Linked DNA regions of Homo sapiens: region 2 is linked to region 1. Evidence: fine-mapped expression QTL. Tissue or cell type: blood mononuclear cells. Region 1 holds a variant in brackets; the other region holds the start of a gene. All regions are shown on one strand. Distances are between the middles of the regions. Region 1 overlaps KIF21B (kinesin family member 21B). Region 2 holds the start of GPR25 (G protein-coupled receptor 25).

Region 1 (5,000 bases):
TCTCCTGTCCCGTAACCAAGTTCCACATCTTGCAGCTTCGGTCTGTGAGAGATGGGAGGAAGCCACAGGGAGGGGAGGGATGTCAGCCACTAGGGGGCGCAGCTCCACCTCTGCAGGGGCTGCCCAGGATAGGGGAAAGGGATCCACAGGGCTCCAGAGGACGGAGCTCCAGGTCTGAAGAGGAAAAAAACACATACACATGTGCTCACTGGCATGTGTGTGCTAGTAAAAAACTCAGGGAAGAGAGAATTCCCTCAGAACTTCAGACCAGGGTTCCTCAAGCAAACTTTCCACTAACACCAGAGTTTTGTGAGCCATACTGCTAAGGTGTCCAGGGCTAAAATAAAATTCTTAAGCTTTTATGGTGCCTGTTCCTCCAAACACTAATTGCTGACAAAGCAAATGAACCAGTGCAAGCAAATGTTATGGGAAAACTTGGAATCAATCAATCACACCTAGATTGACAGCTATCCCCCTACTGCCGTGGAGAGCTATATTTATGCTTGTGTTATAGTATGCGTGTCTATTACAGACTAGTTCTTTCTGTCGGTAAAATGAATGAATGAAAGAGTAAATAAAGAATTTTGTATTTGCTTATTGAGATAGGGTCTTGCTCTGTTGCCCAGGCTGGAGTGTAATTGCACAAACACAGCTCACTGCAGCCTTGACCTCCCGGACTCAAACGATCCTCCCACCTCAGCCTCCTGAGTAGCTGGGGCTACAGGCACATGTCATTGTGACTAATTTTTTATTTTTTGTAGAGACAGGATCTCACTATTTGCCCACGCAGGTAGTCTCAAACTCCTGGGCTTAAGCAATTCTCTTGCCTCATGCTTCCAAAGTGCTGCAATTACAGGTATGAGCCACTGTGCCCAGCCTATCTGCTGGTAAAATGTTTGACTTTGTTGCTGTAATCAGGTGAGCGTGACTTTGTAAAGTGCTGCTGCTGAGATCATAGGGAGTGCCTAGATGTATGAGCTGGGGTGATGTTGGGCAGTGCAAGTACAGGTGGGGCACCCAAGAAGCTTCCTGAAGTTTCCCTGGAAGGTCTGGAAGGAAGTGCTGGATGGAGCCACCAGGTCAGGTATGAGGGAAGGCTTGGCCAAGGATGCATGGGATGGGGGCCTTGAGCCAAGGTAAGAAACAAGGGTAGTAAGCAAATAGACCCCATATCCTCAACTCCTGGGGGCTCTATGTTCTTTTCTCCTTCACAGACCACTCTGACAAAGGAAGCAGGGGTGAGTAGGAGACCCCAACCCTACCTGGCTAGTTGGCGTTCCACATACCTTTGGACCCTGTGAATAGCAACTCATCTGTGGCATCCAGGCAGAGGATGGGCTTGGTGTGGCCTTCGGCCATGGAGACACACTGCAGTGGGGCCGTCCGTGCACCCTTGGCTCCTCCAACCGGGGAGATGATGCCCCTTCCCGGGAGAGAGGGAGAGAAGGCATGCTCGTCAGCCAGGGAGACTGTGGCCAGGCTGATCAAGGCACGTGTGTGGGATGGGGACAGGGCAGGGAGGGGATGAGGACCAAATAACAGAGACTTTAAGGACTCCAGCCAAATTCCACCAAGGTCTGAGAGCCGGGAACGGGCTACACAGAGTGGAGATAGCCTGTCTTAATCAGCAATCATCAGTTGCCATCCTGAGCACTTCTGGGGAAGCAAACCCGGTGTTAGGCACAGCTAGAAGGTGCAGGAGGTGTGGGCTCTGTCCACAGAGAGTTCCTATCTGACAATGTCTGACCCAGATCCTGAGATGTGAATGCGCCCGGGTCCAGCTGGGCAGGGCAGAGGCCCAGGGGCTGGAACTGGGCCCTGTAGCTTCCACCAGAAGCTGCATGCTGCTTCAGTTAACCGAGTGTGAGGGAGGGGTGCTGAGAGGGAGGGTTGCTCAGGCCATCACCCCCATGCACCCTGATCCCAGTAAACCCTTCTGCTGGTAACTGCCTCTGAGGCTAGCATCTTCCAAGCAGAGAGCCATGTGTACACATACACACTCCTTTTGGACCAGCGGGGTCAAACTTGTGACTGGCATTTACGAAGGGCTAAATCCCTTTGGGGCTGGCTTGGCTTTGGGTAGGAGGTTTGGGGCTCTCTGGAATGGGGCTGTATGGACCTGGAACAACACCTCCTCGCTCCCATGATGCTAGGGGAGCGAGAAGGAGGCTGGCCCAAGTGAGCGTGAGGGTTTTGCCACATCCAGCTTCCTGAGGTTCTGAAGATGATTTTTTTCTCAGTGAGGGTCTTTTGGGATGAGACCCTGGCTGAGTCATGTCTGAAAATATATCCTAGCTTTGTTTCTTTTCCCAAGAGAAAGCTGCTCCTGACAGTGACTCTGGCCAAGGGTCTACTGAAATGATCAAGGTTTTGCCTGTGGCGCTTCTGGCACAGCTCCCCCCAGACTCTGCCAGGCCCACCCTTGAGGATGGTGGTCGGATACGTCCAGCTGCCAGCCAGGTGCCACACATGCACAAATAGCTCCCCAAGCTGCTCCAGCACCCT[G/A]CTTCTGACAATGGTTTGGCTTCACTGCATGGCCACAGAACTATGTCAAAGGGATCATGCTCCCCCCGATGACAGCCTGGCCAGCTGGCTAACATCTTGTGGTGGCAAAGCCTCATGATTCACAGTAAACCAGTTGTCGACACTCAGGGCTGGAGGCTCGAGGAGCTGAGACAGCCCACCAGGAGAGCCGAGGAAGCTCTCAGCCCACGAGGGGCCCTTGGCTTGTCAGGGGCTCGGGACCCCAGGTCCTGAGTCTTGCTCCTCGTTGTGCGGTGTCATGCTCGGCTGGCTGGGAGAACCAGCCTCCAGCCATCCCACAGGCTGCGGGAAGGGGAGGTACCCACACATCTGTGTGCTAACAGGTGTGGGCAAGGGGCGCTGCCCCCATGGTGCCCCTCCCCCCATGGTGCCCCTCCCAGAGCCAACGTCTGAAAAGCTCACCCCCAGCACAAGCTGAGGGAATCAAAGGACCCAGAGCACACCACCGGCACCCCCAAAAGGAGCAGCCTTCAGCATTTCCCCTGCCTTCCAGTCGTGGAGAACTCAGCCCCAGCCCAGCATCCCCTAGGCCTCCATGCTGCGCCCCTCCCTGCCCAGGTGAGGAGGGAGAAGAGAACAGGGCCTGCGACAAGCAACTGTGCACCCTCCCCAAGCCCCCAGCTCTAGCTGGCGCAGTCCAAGGCCTTGTGGCCACCCTGAGAGAGAGGAACCATGGGGGCAGGAACAGGTCTGGAGAGGGGGGCAGCAGGAAGGGGAGTGGAGGGGCCGCATGCTGAGGACACGGGTGTCAGGCGGGAGGGATGCAGCAAGAGACAGAGAAGAGAGGGTGCCGAGAGTGAGAGTGGGGAACCAAACACGAGAGACATTCTGTGTGTACCTCAGGACCTCCGACAAAGAGGAGTCGCTGTCATCAGACCTGGGGAGGGCAGAAAATTAGCTGGATTAGGGGGTGAGAGGAGACACACACAGAGGGACGCAGAGGCGGCAGCAGTGTGTGGGGTGGTCAGAGGGCAGGTTATTCTCTTCCAGCGGAGCAGAGACAGGCAGAGGAATGAGGGCCTCGGGAGAGCAGGGGAGGAGGTGGGTGGGCTGGTCTGGGAGCTGGGACTCTCCCCCAGGAGTGGGCTGCCAGGGTCTCTCGGCTGGCAAGGGAGGAGCGAGGAGGGGGCCACGGGGAGATGTGGGAGCACCAGCCCCACACATGGGGAGACGTTTCCAGGGCTGTTTGCTGGTTCCAAGCTCTCTGGCTGCCCCATCGCACAAGCTGGGGGCACCTGCCCCACCCCAGCAATGCTCATACCTGCCCAAGGCTGAAGGAAGCCATGCCTGATCCTACCCCTCCCTGGGAGCTGGCTTCTTCCAGCAATTCCTCAGGGGCTCACTTATTTACAAAGCCCACTATCCCTAGGGGGCCCACTGGGACAGTGCCTAGAAGTTGGCTGTGCACCATGCACAGGCTCCAAGACCTGGACCATTGGACAAGACCAAGGCCTCCAGAAGACCATCAGGCTGGGATGGGCACAGCCCTGCCCCAATCCTTCCAAAAAGGGGACCTGTTGATTGTAACAACATGGAGATGGGCTAGGAGTGATCCATGGCTCCCCCCACAGCAGCCTGAGCCAAGATAGGTTTGGGGAAGGAGGTGTCTGGGGTGCCAGGTCTGCAGGGCTCTGACTCCTGGGCTCAGCATTCATCAAGTAGTATTTTGACCCAGGAAGGGGCATTTCTGTGGAGAGGTGGGGAGGGTGGACATCAGGCACTAGGTACAAGGACAAGTATTTTCTAGTGTGAGACTCCCCTGAAGGCCACAGCACTGTCACCCCTGGGGCAGGGAAGCCTTCAGGGAGCTAAGAGAGGAGCCCTCTTGAGGGCTGCAGAGAGCAAAACAGGACCAGGGTGGGCCCAGCAATGCTGGGGAGCCCAGAGCAGCACATGGAGGATAGGGTCCTCCCCTTTCCTGAGGCACAGCAGGCAGGGGCTGGAAGTCCCAGGCTCTGGGTGCAATTCTGCCACTTTCTAGGTGAACATCCCTGGCTCCCTCTTTGAGCCTCATTTCCTCTTATGTGAAATAGGGAAGACAATTCTCGTGGTTGTTTCATAGCCTAATGAAATCACATATATGAAAGCAGGTTGTAAAGCACAGGGAGAAAGCCTGAATGCAGGGGAGGCTGTTAACATAAACCACACCATTAGGCAGTAGAGTCTTGCATCAGGAGCTGTGAATATAGGTGGACCTGAACCTGCCTGAGGAAGGCAATTTGGGGGTCTGGTCTCTTTCTGCTGGGAGAATGCACAGAGAGTGGAGTGGTTGAAGCTGAAGGAAGGGGCTTCAGAGCAGACTCAAAGCAGCAGCAGAGGTGGATTAAAGGGCAGCTCTGGAGAGCCCTCAGGCACCGGCCCCATGCGACCAGCCCACCTGACTGCCCGGCCCCAATCCCTGTGGCCTCCTTCTTGCCCTCTCCTGAGGTCCTGGCATTCTCAGGGGAGGAGAAGGG
Region 2 (5,510 bases), 110 kb before region 1:
GATGGTCTCTGGGCTCTGGCAGGCAAGCACTGCCCCTGCTAGCCTTCTAGGGGAGGAGGCTGCAGCCCCCTACTCCACCCCGGATGTGGGCACCGCTCACCAGCAACCACATGCTCAGACATTAGAAAAGCGGCTCTGGGGTGGGTCTTCAGGGGAAAACCAAGCCCGGAGGCTGAAAAGCCAGTGAAGGGAAGGTCCAGACCATTCATTCCCTAGGCTCTTCTCTTCCCTGCCCATCTTGTAATTGGTGTGGGAGAAATTCTTGACAGGAGCAGCCTAAACACTGCATACCCAACCCTCTGTGAGCTCTAGGACCATTTTCTTTTTGAGATGGAGTCTCGCTCTTTCACCCAGGCTGGAGTGCAGTGGCTTGATCTCAGCTCACTGCAACCTTTGCTCCTGGGTTCAAGCGATTCTCCCACCTCAGCCTCCTGAGTAGCTGGGACTTGCGCGTACCGTGCCCGGCTAATTTTTGCATTTTTAGTAGAGACAGGGTTTCACCATGTTGGCCAGGCTGGTCTCGAGCTCCTGACTTGAAGTGATCTACCCACCTCGGCCTCCCAAAGTGCTGGGATTAGATGTGAGCCACTGCGCCCGGCCTCTAAGACCATTTTCCAAATCCTTCCTGGGGATCTCCGTGTGCCAGAGGGACCCTGAGCGAGGGTGACCTTATGTCCCAGTTTGCCCAAAATAGTCCTGGTTTACGGCCCAGGTTAATTCTGATAGTGCCCCTTTCACTCTCAGAAACATCCTGGTTAGATGATAAATTATTTCATGACCCCACTTCAACATCAAACTGAACACATACACACATGTGCCTCTCTGTGTTCTTGGCAGTTAAGGGGACAGCGTCCATATAGTCCCTAAGCAGAGAAACCCCAGGCTTATCTTTGACTCCTCTTTGTGAGACCTATGATGTTACAATTATCTCTTGAATATACCCTCCCATTTCTGTCCCCACTGCTCATGATCTATTTCAGACACAAATAATTACAACCTACTATGGGGTCTCCCTGGCTTGAGCCTCTCCCTTCTCCATAGTTCTGCCAGCGATCTTTTCAAAACACAGATCGATGCCTCCTGGCTCCCCATGACCTATAGATTGAAATCCAAATCCCCTCATGATCCTTTCCTGCTTCATCTCCTGCCCCCACCTTCCTACCCTGGGCTCTGGCAGACTGCTTGTCCCCTGAAAAGCCCACATTCCTACTCATTTTGGTATACTTGTTCCCTTTACTCCCTCCTCCGAGTCTGACCCTTTCTTCTCTTTTCTGCTGCTCTTATTTGACTTTCAGCTCCTTCCTGGGACTGATCTCAAGTGTCATCTCCTCGAAGGCCTTTTCTGATTCAGCCCTCCCGTCAAAAATAATCACTCCCCCTCCACTAAACCCTAAGAGGGCTTGGTTTTTAACATTTACTACAATTTGGCCCCTGCATAAGATTACATAAGATTCTGCTTATGTAACCATCTCTCCTGCCTATGCAACAAACTGCGAAGGCCAAGAATGGCATCTCTTGCAGTGCCTGAAACAGTGCCTGCTTCATGGAGGAGTTCATTGTTAACAAGTCTTAATCGAACAAAATTGATAATCCACCTCAAATTTTCCACACCGGGTTGCCCGGCACATCAGCCACTCATACCTGGGAACACTGGGGACAGACTCAGAGGGCACTGTGACATCAGTTCTACCACAATATCTTGTGGAAGGGATATCTGCTAAGAAGAATTCAGATGTAAGTGGCTGCATGCCTCCTTCAGGAGAAAGAGCAAGCTTTCCCTCACCCATCCTCTCCTCCTTAGGTCCCACTGCCTCCTCAGGGTCAGACTTCATTCCCCCTCGTCTTTATGAATCCTCCCCTTACTCTCAGTTTCTCAGTTCAGAAGGGATCTTGCTGCCTCCAAGCTCCTGACTCATAATTTAGGACAACTAATCTGGTGTTTCATTAGGTGTCATCTTTTGAACTGAGCTTACATCTGTGTCTGGCTTGACAGGTTTTTTAGGATAGGAGAAGACAGGGAAGAGGCAGATGTGAATCCCAGGTTTCACCCCTTTCCAGCAGGATGATCTGACTACACCCCTTCCTCGCTGCCTTAAAACCCTTTCGCGTGGCTTCATGAGGACCTGACTGGGTCAGAGAAGCCACTCATAGGGTGAAGACATGAGCCCCACATCTCAGGACGCTAACAACTGCTTGACTGCCCAGGGCGGGCTCCCCCACCCACCCAGATCTGCTGTGTCCCGGCAGTGGAGTCTTTCCTAGGGAACAGGTGGATTTGGGGTGGGGCGTGCCTTAGGCCCCATACTCATAAAATCCCGGGGCTCTGTCTTCTCACCTCTAAAACAGAGAAGACAGCAGCCGGTGGGTGCAGGTGGGAAGGGGTGAAGTGGAGGCTGAGAAGAGGTTAGGGCTCTCGGGCACCCACCACCTCTTGCAACGCGACCCTGAGACAGTGGGGCAAGTATCCCGATTTCACGAACAAAGAAACTGAGCAACTAATAGAGGAATGGGCCACGCTCCTACTGGGAGGCCGGGCAGGTCTCCCAGCCCTGAAGACTTTTCCTCCCAAGATTTAGATGTGAAGCCCCTTTTGCCTGTCCCTGCCCTTACCCCTCGGGTCAGCCCCAAATCGGAGGCCACCATCTCTCTCACAGAAGCCTGCCCCTCCCACCCCATCCCCTCCTCCCTCCCCTCTTTCCTGCCCACCCATTTGCCTCCGGCTTGGGTGGCAGGAAGGGAGGTGCAGGGCCGGGCGTGAAGAGCAAACCCCCTCCTGCTCAGAGCTGCTGCCGCCTGCGCCCAGGGCTGCACTCCGCGCAGGCCTCATAGCCAGGCCATGGCCCCCACAGAGCCCTGGAGCCCCAGCCCGGGGTCAGCGCCCTGGGACTACTCGGGGTTGGACGGCCTGGAGGAGCTGGAGCTGTGTCCGGCCGGGGACCTGCCCTACGGCTACGTCTACATCCCCGCGCTCTACCTGGCGGCCTTCGCCGTGGGCCTGCTGGGCAACGCCTTTGTGGTGTGGCTGCTGGCCGGGCGGCGGGGCCCGCGGCGGCTGGTGGATACCTTCGTGCTGCACCTGGCGGCAGCTGACCTGGGCTTCGTGCTCACGCTGCCGCTGTGGGCCGCGGCGGCGGCGCTAGGCGGCCGCTGGCCGTTCGGCGATGGCCTCTGCAAGCTCAGCAGCTTCGCGCTGGCGGGCACGCGCTGCGCGGGCGCGCTGCTGCTGGCGGGCATGAGCGTGGACCGCTACCTGGCCGTGGTGAAGCTGCTCGAGGCGAGGCCACTGCGCACCCCGCGCTGCGCGCTGGCCTCGTGCTGCGGCGTCTGGGCCGTGGCGCTGCTGGCCGGCCTGCCCTCCCTGGTCTACCGGGGGTTGCAGCCCCTGCCTGGGGGCCAGGACAGCCAGTGCGGCGAGGAGCCCTCCCACGCCTTCCAGGGCCTCAGCTTGCTGCTGCTGCTGCTGACCTTCGTGCTGCCCCTGGTCGTCACCCTCTTCTGCTACTGCCGCATCTCGCGCCGCCTGCGACGGCCGCCGCACGTGGGTCGGGCCCGGAGGAACTCGCTGCGCATCATCTTCGCCATCGAGAGCACGTTTGTGGGCTCCTGGCTGCCCTTCAGCGCCCTGCGGGCCGTCTTCCACCTGGCGCGTCTGGGGGCGCTGCCGCTGCCGTGCCCCCTGCTGCTGGCGCTGCGCTGGGGCCTCACCATTGCCACCTGCCTGGCCTTCGTCAACAGCTGCGCCAACCCGCTCATCTACCTCCTGCTGGACCGCTCATTCCGAGCCCGGGCGCTGGACGGGGCCTGCGGGCGCACCGGCCGCCTGGCGCGAAGGATCAGCTCAGCCTCCTCGCTCTCCAGGGACGACAGTTCCGTGTTCCGTTGCCGGGCCCAGGCCGCGAACACTGCCTCGGCCTCCTGGTAGCTGCCCCGGGCCGCTGGAGGTGGGCGGCAGCGGAGCATCGAGAGGAGGCCAGAGGTCCCGGAGGGGACTGAGCTCCCCAGACGCGCCTGTTCTGGCGGCAGCAAGCTGCTCGGGCCGGCATCGCATTTCCTCGCGCGCTGCCTGGACTCCCAAGGCCTCCTCCATCGGTTTCCCCGGAACCTCAGAACAATTGAACTCCCCTAAACCAGGCTCCTGTGACTAGCTGTTCCCTCTCAGCCTGCAGGGTACCTGAGCTAATTTTGTCCAGTCCAAGATAGGTGCTATGAGATGTAGCAGACAGCAACTCGGAGACCCGCAGATTCACCAAGTAGACAGAAGGGAAGTGGGTTTCCTTCTCTGTCCCATCGGGAAGAGAACCCACCAGAATATCTAACCCAGACCCCCAAATGCCATTCTGATTTCTGGCTGTGCTTTCTCCCGTCTCCCACAATAGCCGTTGCTTTCAGAGAAATACCTTCTCCAAGTCAGACCCCCTGCCCTTCTCACTCACAAAACCCTTGCATTGAATCTGGTGACACTTCTCCCCCTGTGAAGCGGCAGGACTCACCTGGAAGTTGTTCTGGTCTTTCCCTCTGGACAGAAGGTCCTGAAATCGCTCACCAGGCGTTTTTTGAGGTCTCCATCACTCAGCCAGGAACCTCAAAATCTCTGTGAATTCATCTTTCTCAATAAACACTCTTGCTAGCCCTGTCTTGACAACCGTCTTTGCTTGAGCAGTGGGAGTGAAATGCATATCAGGAGGCGGGTCGTACACTGGGTGAGACAAAACTCAACACAGTAGTTGAGGTTGATCTCAGGATGATGAGGATTTGGGGTGGTGTCTGGGAGCATGAGAGCTGGCTGCACTCTGCAGGTGCAGTAATCCCACAGGAGGAAGCAAGTCATTTATTCTTATTTTTAAGGACATTTCACATTTTGAAAATTACCGAAAGAAAATATATTTATATAAGGGCATCTGCCAGCCAAGTGTCACTTCCAAGAGAAGATGTGTCATTTTGGATTTTCAAATATATACCAGGCCCCCCCTTTTTTTTTCTATCTTTTTTCAGACCTTCCAGTACAAACTTGGAGGATTAGCCATTTTCTGACTCTGTCATTTCTCATTTGAGGTTTCTGTAGGGTTTGGAAATTCACTGTTTATACTTTTGATTTAAGAGGATTTGGCCTAAAGACATTTCAGTCAGTGCACATCCTAGCCAGATCCCCACAGGCCAGTCTTGATGTTGCAAGCTCTGGGGGAACGGGTGGGTGTGCACGCACATCAGCACCTCAGCACTAGGTTGGGTCTGAAGGCTGGCATTCTGTCGCAGGCTATCCATCCCATCCCCCCATCAAATACCCCTGTATTCTCTTCAGCATTTGGAGCTGCTTGGATTGAACATCGGCTCTCCTAGGTCAGCCTGCCAAAAAGTGCATCTCTGCATGTTCCTACCATATACTCCAAGAGAGGCAAGCCTTGCAGCCTGTGAGGTCACCTCTGCCAGCAGGACACATTTCAGGCACTTCGGTGTTTGAGAGTTCAGTTAAGTCTTGGCCCTTCCTATCCTCACGATTGCTCTCCGAGGCA

The links. PIP is the estimated chance that this variant, and not a neighbour inherited with it, causes the effect. A credible set is the group of variants that fine-mapping cannot tell apart.
Region 2: GPR25 starts here. The variant in region 1 is the best candidate, but not a certain one, in a credible set for the expression of GPR25 in blood mononuclear cells (TOPMed, PIP 0.76).

The regions. Positions count from the first base shown.
Region 1 is chr1:200,979,674-200,984,673 of GRCh38, forward strand. KIF21B (kinesin family member 21B) reads right to left here. Exons shown (of 35, transcript NM_001252102.2): 28 at 3,383-3,421; 29 at 1,287-1,423; 30 at 1-42. Among named protein-coding and RNA genes, the nearest start is that of KIF21B, 42 kb to the right of the region's middle. RefSeq lists an enhancer at 15-164. The variant G/A (reference allele first, on the strand shown) is at 2,506.
Region 2 is chr1:200,870,202-200,875,711 of GRCh38, forward strand. It overlaps GPR25 (G protein-coupled receptor 25), which reads left to right and starts at 2,780. Exons shown (of 1, transcript NM_005298.4): 1 at 2,780-3,977. The coding sequence starts at 2,837. The coding sequence ends at 3,922. RefSeq lists an enhancer at 2,832-3,474.